Linked DNA regions of Homo sapiens: region 2 is linked to region 1. Evidence: fine-mapped expression QTL. A gene starts in region 1. The other region holds a variant in brackets. All regions are shown on one strand. Distances are between the middles of the regions.

Region 1 (4,385 bases):
TGAAGTCTGACTGAAGGTCATCGTTTGGAGTTGGGGTGGGGTGAAGAGTAGACAAACCTTAAAATACAGAGACGAGTGCTGCAGTGAGCACGCGTGAGTGCTTAGGCAGCGCTTGAAGAGGGAGTTACCGATTTGGCCCTGGAAGTCAGGAAGGCTATCCTTTTAAGGTGATCCCTGAGCTGGGAGTTTGTTTCAAACGGTGGGGACCGCAGGTAGAAGCACCGCTTAAGGGGAACGGCGATTCGACTCGCAGTGACTTAAGGGTTGGCGTGGTGCTTGTTCCTGGGCGTGGGGAGGACAGGAAACCGCGGGGTCTGTGAGACGCCCCGTGGTTGTTGAAACGCTGTTGGGGGGCACAAACGAATAGGGCTTTAGGAAGAAAACTGGTGGGAGGAGCCTTGTGGCTCCAAGGTAGGTTAGGAACTGGAGCGAGATGGAGCACGGAGGAGTGAGGCGGCCCGAAGGATGCCCGGGGAGACATGGAGGAACTGGCGAGGGCTTCCCGATGCAGGGCCTGGGGGAGAGGGTGAACTAATGCCTCTGCAGTGCCCCGTGGGGAAGTTCCGCATACTCGGCCAGAGTGATCGGAGTTGGCGGCTGTCTGGGGGAGTTGGGTCAGGAAGCCCCTTCTTTCGCCACCGATGGGGCACGTCCAGGGCCCGGCAGGTGTGCCCTGGCAGTAGATCTTCCCTGGGAAGTGGAGCGCGGGCCAGCCCTCGCTGTTCTGAGCGAGGGCCTGTCGTGTAGTCCACACCGTTCCGCGAAAGGAACCACCATTGACAGCCTCGTTCGATTAGAACCCGGACCTCCCTGGAATCCAGACTCGGTCCCTTCCCAGCTGCGCTTCGGAGGAGGCGGACGCTCCGAGAGGAACCCAGAGGCCTGGCGTGGGGGGAGCTGCGGGCAGAGCGGAGGCAGCCGCGCCCTCGCGCCGCCCTCCGCCGCGCCCGGCTCCCGCCCCCCGGATCCCACCCCCGGCCTGCCGCGGAGCCAGCGTGCCAGCCGGAGCTCGCCGGGCCACCCCGCGGGGCGCGCGGCCCGGGCTCCGGGTCTTGGCGGCGGCCGGTGGGGCGGGCATGGGGTGGGGTGGGTGCTCCACCTGGCCACGCCGCCGGCCCTTCGCGGGCTGGCCCGGCCCCGGACGGGCGGGCGCACGGAGGCCGCCTCTTGGGCTCCTCCTGGAGGGAGGCGCGCGGTAGACGGCGCGGCCGCTGCCGTCGGGGCGGTGGGCTCCAGACGCGGGCCGGCTCGCTCGCATGGTTCCCTGCCCCATCTCGGGTCCGTCGCTGCCCGTCCTGGTGTGCACAACCGCGCTGCGCCTCGAACCTCGAGGTCCAGGTCCCGCCTGCCCTGGGCCGGGCCGCAAGCGCCCACGTCGAGGCGGGCTGGGGGGCGGTGCCGCGGGCCAGGCCGACCCCGCAAGCGGGACTGGGGAAGTCGGAGCCCCGCCCACCACCCCGCCCCCCGCGCTCGCGGCCCCGCCCCCGACTGCCCCGCTCCTCCCCTTCCTGCCGGCTCGCTCCCGGCCCCGCCGGCCGCCCGCCTCGGCCCCGAGCGGAGCCCACTGCTCCCCTCGGCTGCCCCGCCCCGCCGCCGCCCCGCCCCTCCCGCGCGGGCGGCCCGAAAACCCGGAGCGCGGGAGCGCGGCTCCGCAGGGCCGGGCGGCCGCACTGGGCATGCTCAGTAGCCGGGGCAGGTTTTTTGGTCGCAAGTAGGAAGCTTTCTGCACTACACCGGAGAGGGGAGCCGCGATCCGGCCGCGCCGCCCGCACGCCGCCGCGCCCGCCCCAGCCCGCCCGGCCCCGCGGCGGGGCGCGATGAGCCCGAGCGCGAGCCGGCCCGCCGGGGAGTGAGCGCGGGGCGCCCAGGGCGCGTTGCGTAGCTGCTCCTGCGCACAACCCCGCCGCGCCGCCGGCCCGCACTGGCCGCGGAGTGCAAGAGGCTCGTCCGTGCCCAGCGCCCGGCCGGCCGCGGGAGCAGGAAGCGCAGGCCACGCAGGACCCAACTGAAACAAAGTGTCGGCCGCCCGGCGCCGGCGCCCGCCCCGACCCTGCCCCTCCCGCCCGCAACTCCGCCGCCCACCATGGCTTCCGAGGAGCTGTACGAGGTACCTCCCCTCCCCCCGGCCTCGGGCCGCCCCCCGCCCGCCGCCCCTCCCGGCCCGGCCGCGCCGCCCGACGGCCCCGCTCGCCGCCCGCGCCCGCCGCGTCCCCTCCCCCGCCGCGGCCGCAGTTTGCTGGACGGGAAATGTGTGTGAGGGGAGCCCGAGCCTCCGTTCCGAGGGGCCCCGGCCGGGGGGTCCTGAAGTTGCCGGGCGTGGGGTGGGGGGGGGGGTCCCAGCCGTGGGGAAGTGGTGCTGACACAAGTGACTTGCTCGGACTGAGCTCAAAGTGCTCTTGGCGTGGGTCGTGGAAGTGGTGCCTCCGTTGCCGCTCGGCGGGGACCGTGGGCGGTACGGGGGGTGGGGTGTGGGGGGGTTTCTGGATCATTTGATAAAGCATTTGGGAGAGGGTTTTGCCCCTGGTCGGGGGGTGGCGGGGAGAAGACCGGTGCAAACGCTTTCGACTTTGCTGTTCGCCAAAGCGATGCAAAATCTCGCACCGAAAATGCTAAACGTTGACCACATGCTTTAATTAGGTTAGCATTGTGGCCAGAGCCAGGAAATTTAAATTTAACGCTGATACACCGTCATTCATTTGCGCCGCAGCGTTGCAAATGAGAAGGGCATAGCCAGAACTGTAAGTTCTGGTCGATGGGTTTAAACCAGCTTCAAGTTTGAGAGTTACCAATTTGGATCTTTAGACATGTTTTGTATGTCTCCATGTAACTTCTTTTGACGTATTTCAAAGTAGACTTCCTGGGAGTACAGAAGTTTGGAAGGCTTTCTGTTCTTCTGGATAAATGATTCTCTTGTTTCACATGTATTTATAAATAAGTTCCTAAGAGACTTAAAACTTGCGAAGACTCTCTAGACTCACCTTTATGATGCGTTTAGGGACCTGGGTGTTGAGGGACTTAAGGAAGCATCTGTAACAAGTAGAGCCCTGTGGCCCCAGGGATCCTTTCAGTTGTCTTCTCTTATGGGCGTATTATTGCTGTTGGCATAGAATAGAGCTTTGTTGTCTGCGATGTTAGTCTTCTAGCAACTTTTTTGTTGCTTTTTAAGAGCAAGTGTTTGCAGAAGTTCTCAGGAGGAAGCTGCCATCTGTAGAATTAAGGGTAAGGTTGTTGCTTCTCCTTACATTGTATGTGGTCAGTATACCTTAGCTGGTACTGAAAATGTTCCATTCTTTTCAACCATTTTACACATTAGCTGTGCCCCGCTGTATTCAGGATACTATTTTAGGTCATTTGGGGATGTAAAAGAAGAAAAATCTCCCTGTTCTCAGGAGCTTTCCTTCTAGGAAGGAAAGTGTTGTGTGTCTGGAAGACACAGAAATGGAGGCTAGGATGTTTGAGGTTGAGGTCTTCCAGGTGAAGTCTGTACAGGGGGAAGTACATAGCATGAGGGTATGGGGGATTTTAGTTTCTACATTAGATCATTCTTTGGTTGTTTAGTCATGAGTGTTCACTCTTGGCATTTGCTTTTATGAGTATGATTACATAATCAGTTCCATCAGTGGATGAGAGTAGCACCTTATACGTAAGTTGTATCCTATGTGTGTAAGAATGATTCTGAAGACAGCACATTTCCCATTAGTATATTATGAACTAAGTTTAGTTCCTTCTGTGCTTATTCTATATCTTCAGGTTTCTGTTCCTAACAGAAGTTATTAATGAGTAACATTTTGTACTAAGTTTGTGTTCATTTAACGTTTATTGAATGCTTGCCATATGGAGGTTTCATGGGGAAATACTGAGGTGTGAGAATGGTTCATGCTTTCAAGGAGTGTCTGTTGGGGAGGAAGTAAGTATATTGCAAATAAATGATACACCTGCACAATTGAACTTTTGATTCTGAGTTTTATTTTAGTTTTGGAAAAAAAGGTATTATAGAAGTATAGTTCAGGTGATAAATTTAAGTATGTGTAGTAAATATGTAGTGGTCAGTATCTTTCAAGGCAAAATTTGTAACTTTTCTTTTACTTGTAGGCAACACTGTGACTATGTTACCATTGAAAGTTGACATTGAAAGTTTTGCATGGCAGTTGAGAGCCTAGATTTGGAGTCAGACAACCCAGTTAGTGACTTCCAACTCTATCACCTTGGGTAAATTAGCCTTGAAAGCTCAGTTTCCTCATCTGTGAAATTGGGATCAGTGTTTCCCTTATAGAGCTATGAAGTTTACATGAGAACATATGTAAAGCCCACCCTAAAATTCCCATGGCAAGCACCCAGTAAGTGATGATGATTGTATGGTAACTGGCTTAAAATGCCTCCCTGAA
Region 2 (4,385 bases), 180 kb before region 1:
GATTTTAGCTAGGAGGGTTGTATCTTTCCAGGAATTTATCCATCTCTGAGCATGTGGATATTCAATCTCATAGACAGGGCAACTGCTTTCCAAAATGGCATTCATAGAGTTTCACTAGACTCTATGAATTCTAAGTTCTAAGTTCATAGAACTTTCGCTAGAGTTGCTGTGGCTCTAAACCCTTGCTGACGATTAGTATTTTCAGAATTTTTAGTTCTTTCCTGTCTCCTGTGTAAGGCTATCTCATTGTAGTTTTAGTTTGCATTTTCCTGATGACTAATAAATTTGAGCCACTTTTTCATGTTTGTTGACCATCTGAATTTCCTCTTTGGTTTTGTGCCTGTCTAATAAGCCCCTTTTCTTATTGGGTTATTTCTTTTCCATATTAATCTGGTTAAGTTCTTTCTGTATATTTGAAATCCTAGTCATTTGTCAGTATACGTGTTGCAACTGTCTTCGCCCACCTGATGCTTGTCTTTTCACCCATTTTACAGTGTGCTGTACACATCTGTTCCTCTAATTGAGTTCTGTGCTTACAAACTGAGAACTGTGTTTGTCCACAAGCCCATTGAAGTGGGTGGTGAATGTTATTGTCATTTCCATAATAACTTGAATGCTTTGGGAAAACTTTATAAAGCTTAGTTGTTTAAACTCTTATATAAACTGATAGTGATATAGATATAGATTTGATATAGATATGGAATTAGGTGGGGCAATGCAATTATGAAAGAATTGGGCTTGGGGAAGGGTCAGGAAACCTAGAAGGAATCTGCATTCATTGTTCTTCTTAAGTGTCTCTAAGATCTCTAAGATTTCTAACAAATTCTATGTTAAAGACTCTGAAACTGGAATTTGTAAATGATGTACTTTGAGTGTGGTTTATGTAAGAAAGACCATGCTGAATTCTCAGCAAACCTAAGTACGAAGAAAGAATCTGATGATTGGTGAATAAATAGAGTATAGAAGCATCATTCTAGTAATTTCCCACTTTAATTTTTCAAATTAATTATTCAATGATTAGTTTCACTCATATCAAACAAGAGGGCTATATGCCAGCACAAATTATGATTTACAATTATTTCTTATACTAAATTTAACATGTTAAGATACATAAACATCCTAGTATTTGCATTTCGGTTTGTTTTTTGTTTTGGGTTTTTTGTTTGTTTTTTGGTTTTGGAGTTTGTTTTTTGTTTGTTTGTTTGAGACAGAGTCCCGCTCTGTCACCCAGGGGCTAGAGTTCAGTAGCATGATCTCGGCTCACTGTAACCTCCACCTCCCAGGTTCCAGCCATTCTCCTGCCTCAGCCTCCCGAGTAGCTGGGATTACAGGCGTGCACCACCACACCCAACTAATTCTTGTATTTTTAGTGGAGACAGGGTTTCACCATGTTGGCCAGGCCGATCTCAAACTCCCGACCTCAAGTGATCCGCCCGCCTCGGCCTCCCAAAGTGTTGGGATTACAGGCATGAGCCACCACACCCGGCCATGCTTTTTGTACTGTGGTAAATATACATACCATAAAGTTTTAACCATTTTTAAGTGTAAATTTCAGTGACATTAAATACATTCACATTGTTGTGCAACCTCCAGCACCATTTTCAGAACATTTTTCATCTTCCCAAGGTGAAAATCTGCATCCATGAAGAAGTAACTTCCGATTACCCAGTGAGTGCCCCAGTCCCTGGCAGCCACCTTTCTACTTCATGTCTCTAGGAAGGTGATGACTCATGTAAGCGGAATCATACAGTATTTGACCTTTTGTATCTGGCTTATTTCACTCAACACATTGTCCTCCAGGTCCATCCATGTTGTAGCATGTATCAGAATGTCCTTCCTTTTTAAGGTTGAATCACATTCCTTTGTGATATGTCACTTTTTTTTATCCATTCATCTGTTGGTGGATACTTGGTTTGTTTCCATCCTTTGGTTATTGTGAGTAATGCTGCTATGAACATGGGTGTACAACTATCTGTTTGACACTCTGCTTCCAATTCATCTGCATATGTATTAGGAAGTAGAATTGCTGGATCATATGGTAATTTTACGTTTAATTTTTTTG[A/G]GGAATGCCATATTCCAGTATTTGCTTTTAACGTGAAGATTGTACAGCATCAGAATGTGTGTAAACCCCCGTCTCACAGGATCCAGCCATATAGGCCGTATTGCCTCTCAATATTGTCTTAGAAACGAATCTTGGATCCTAGAGCAATCTGACAGCAAGTCGGAAGGGATTCTAGAGGTCATCTAGCCCAACCTCATCGTCTTATCAAAGAGGATGTGGCAGCCCAGAGAAGTGATGCGACTTGCCCATGGCCACACAGTCTGTCGGGAAGAGAACCAGGGCAGAGCCTGGGCCACAGCCAATACTGTGTCCACAAGACCACAGAATATATGCCAGAAAAAGCAGGTGCTCAAATCCCTGAAATCACAACGGACATGTGGCCCCCTAAGAAGGAAGTGCTCTGGATTGAGTTCACCCTCTCCCTGCACGGTTGCAAGGGTAGGGCCTGCCCCACTGCACAAGCCCTGGGTGCTGGGCCTGACAGATGCTCTAATGGCCTCATGAGCCACCACACCCTAGGTCCGGCCTACCTTGCCTGGTGCCAGCCAGTCAGTTCACACCAGGGAGGCCAGGCCCAGCTGCACACAAGCCTGCTTCCTTATTGTCCTTTAGGGCGTCTCCTGTGATGCCTGCTCTGCCTGCTGGTCTGTGTTATTCTTGTCAATGGCCCATCCTTTCCTACCGAGTCTGAAACACACACACACACACACACACACACACACACACACAGCAGCTTCTGGAAGGCTTGCCATGTCTTCATCACCTGTCTCAGGATGGGCTGAGCTGTTGACAAAATGCAAAATAAGTGAGTTCTCTTTCTTCTCCCTTTTAATTTTCTTTCCTCCACACTTTGGCTGCCTTCTCCAAATTCCCAAAACTCTGAGGTAGTCCTCAGGATACCAGGAGCTTCTCACCACAGCATTCAACCTCAGCCACATGACCTCTATGGGCAGGAATTTTCTCTCCAAACTTGCCCTTCAGAAACTGAAACATTCTTTGTCTTTCTTGCTCTCAGTCAGTTGCCATATTGGAAAGCAGACCAATACAAATTTTTTTTCCCAGTGACAGTAATGAAACTATCTCACACATTGTCAGACGGACTTTGTTGTACAAAAATCAATTTCTTGTCCATTATCTCAAATGATCCCAACCTCAGTACTGTAGAAATATGTGAGGAAAAGATGAAACTCATCATTTCATTGACAAGAACACTGGTGTGCACTGGGCCCAAGAGCATGGAATTAAGACTCTAGGCCTCAGAGGACTTTCATGCTGTATTACGGAGTTCTACAAGGGATCACGCCAGACAACAGGCAAATGGACAAATCATCATGGATTCTAAACACTTCAGCACAGGACTCTTGGGGATGGCATAGTTTGGGAAAGGAGTGGCTCTTCAAGGAACCTTGCTGAGCCTCAGCTTTCTCAACTGAAGATGAGGCCAGCATCACCCCCAGGAGCATCACGAGGGTCGGTGGAGCCCAGGGTGAGGTACACTGGGGACCTGCAAGAAACTGGGAACTGCATGGATTTGGGAGGACTCATTGGGGCACAATAGGAGGGTCTCTTCTGTAAGGTCTTTCAAATCCCACCAAAATACTGGATGCCTAAGACTTGGAACGTCAGAGCCTTACCTTAGGGCAACAGCCTCTTGCGGAAGTACCTGGGCCCTGAGCCGGGTGGATTCCAGTTCCCCTGTAACAGCCTAGATGAGGGGCCAGGGGTTGAGGAAGGTGCAGGCCACAGCTGCAGAACGAGTGCTGTTGGGGTGTGTATGCTCCTGCAGGCTGAGGCTGTGTGCCACCCATGCAGGTGCTGCCCATGCTCCTCCCTGTGAATGCGCAAAGCAGAGGAGGCTGCAACTGTTAGAAGATGCGAAGGAGGTGGGGGAAGTTACATCTCCTCTCCCACCTCTAGAAATCCTCTTCCAAATGCACCAGAATGCAGAGATGGAGGTGAGGACTCCAGTGTGACCTGCGGGGCCCAGGCACAGCTGCCTTTCTCAGCAGCGGTGGCTTTTCCATCAGCAAGGCACTGGATGCTCTGGGGAAGGAGGTGTGCATGGCTTTATTTTAAACCACTGCCCTGCCCCTCCCTAGTTACAAGGAAACTTGCTGAGTCTCAGCTTTCTCAACTGAAGATGAGGCTAACGTCATCCATGGCAGCGTAATGAGGGCCGGTGGAGCCCAGGGTGAGGTGCACTGGAGACCTTCAAGAAACACTTCTTTGAGAAGACTGTTCAGGAGCCTGGTAGGTTGCCTGGATTCAAGCAAAGGGCTCTGTGGGTGGGGTAACAACATCGCTCGCTAACAGATGAATGGGG

Direction of the effects. Alleles are on the strand shown, and positions count from the first base shown. SD is a standard deviation of normalised expression in the study named.
For the expression in monocytes after LPS of the gene that starts at base 1,704 in region 1, G is the high allele of the variant in region 2 and A is the other (large effect, 1.0 SD a copy in Fairfax 2014).

Evidence for each region. PIP is the estimated chance that this variant, and not a neighbour inherited with it, causes the effect. A credible set is the group of variants that fine-mapping cannot tell apart.
Region 2: its variant is the best candidate, but not a certain one, in a credible set for the expression of CDYL in monocytes after LPS (Fairfax 2014, PIP 0.55).

The regions. Positions count from the first base shown.
Region 1 is chr6:4,774,701-4,779,085 of GRCh38, forward strand. It overlaps CDYL (chromodomain Y like), which reads left to right and starts at 1,704. Exons shown (of 7, transcript NM_004824.4): 1 at 1,704-2,107. The coding sequence starts at 2,084. CDYL-AS1 (CDYL antisense RNA 1) reads right to left here and starts at 726. Exons shown (of 2, transcript NR_183279.1): 1 at 572-726; 2 at 1-57. RefSeq lists an enhancer at 395-1,048 and silencers at 856-1,485, 1,506-2,055.
Region 2 is chr6:4,598,314-4,602,698 of GRCh38, forward strand. No RefSeq gene overlaps it. Among named protein-coding and RNA genes, the nearest start is that of KU-MEL-3, 10 kb to the right of the region's middle. The variant A/G (reference allele first, on the strand shown) is at 2,063.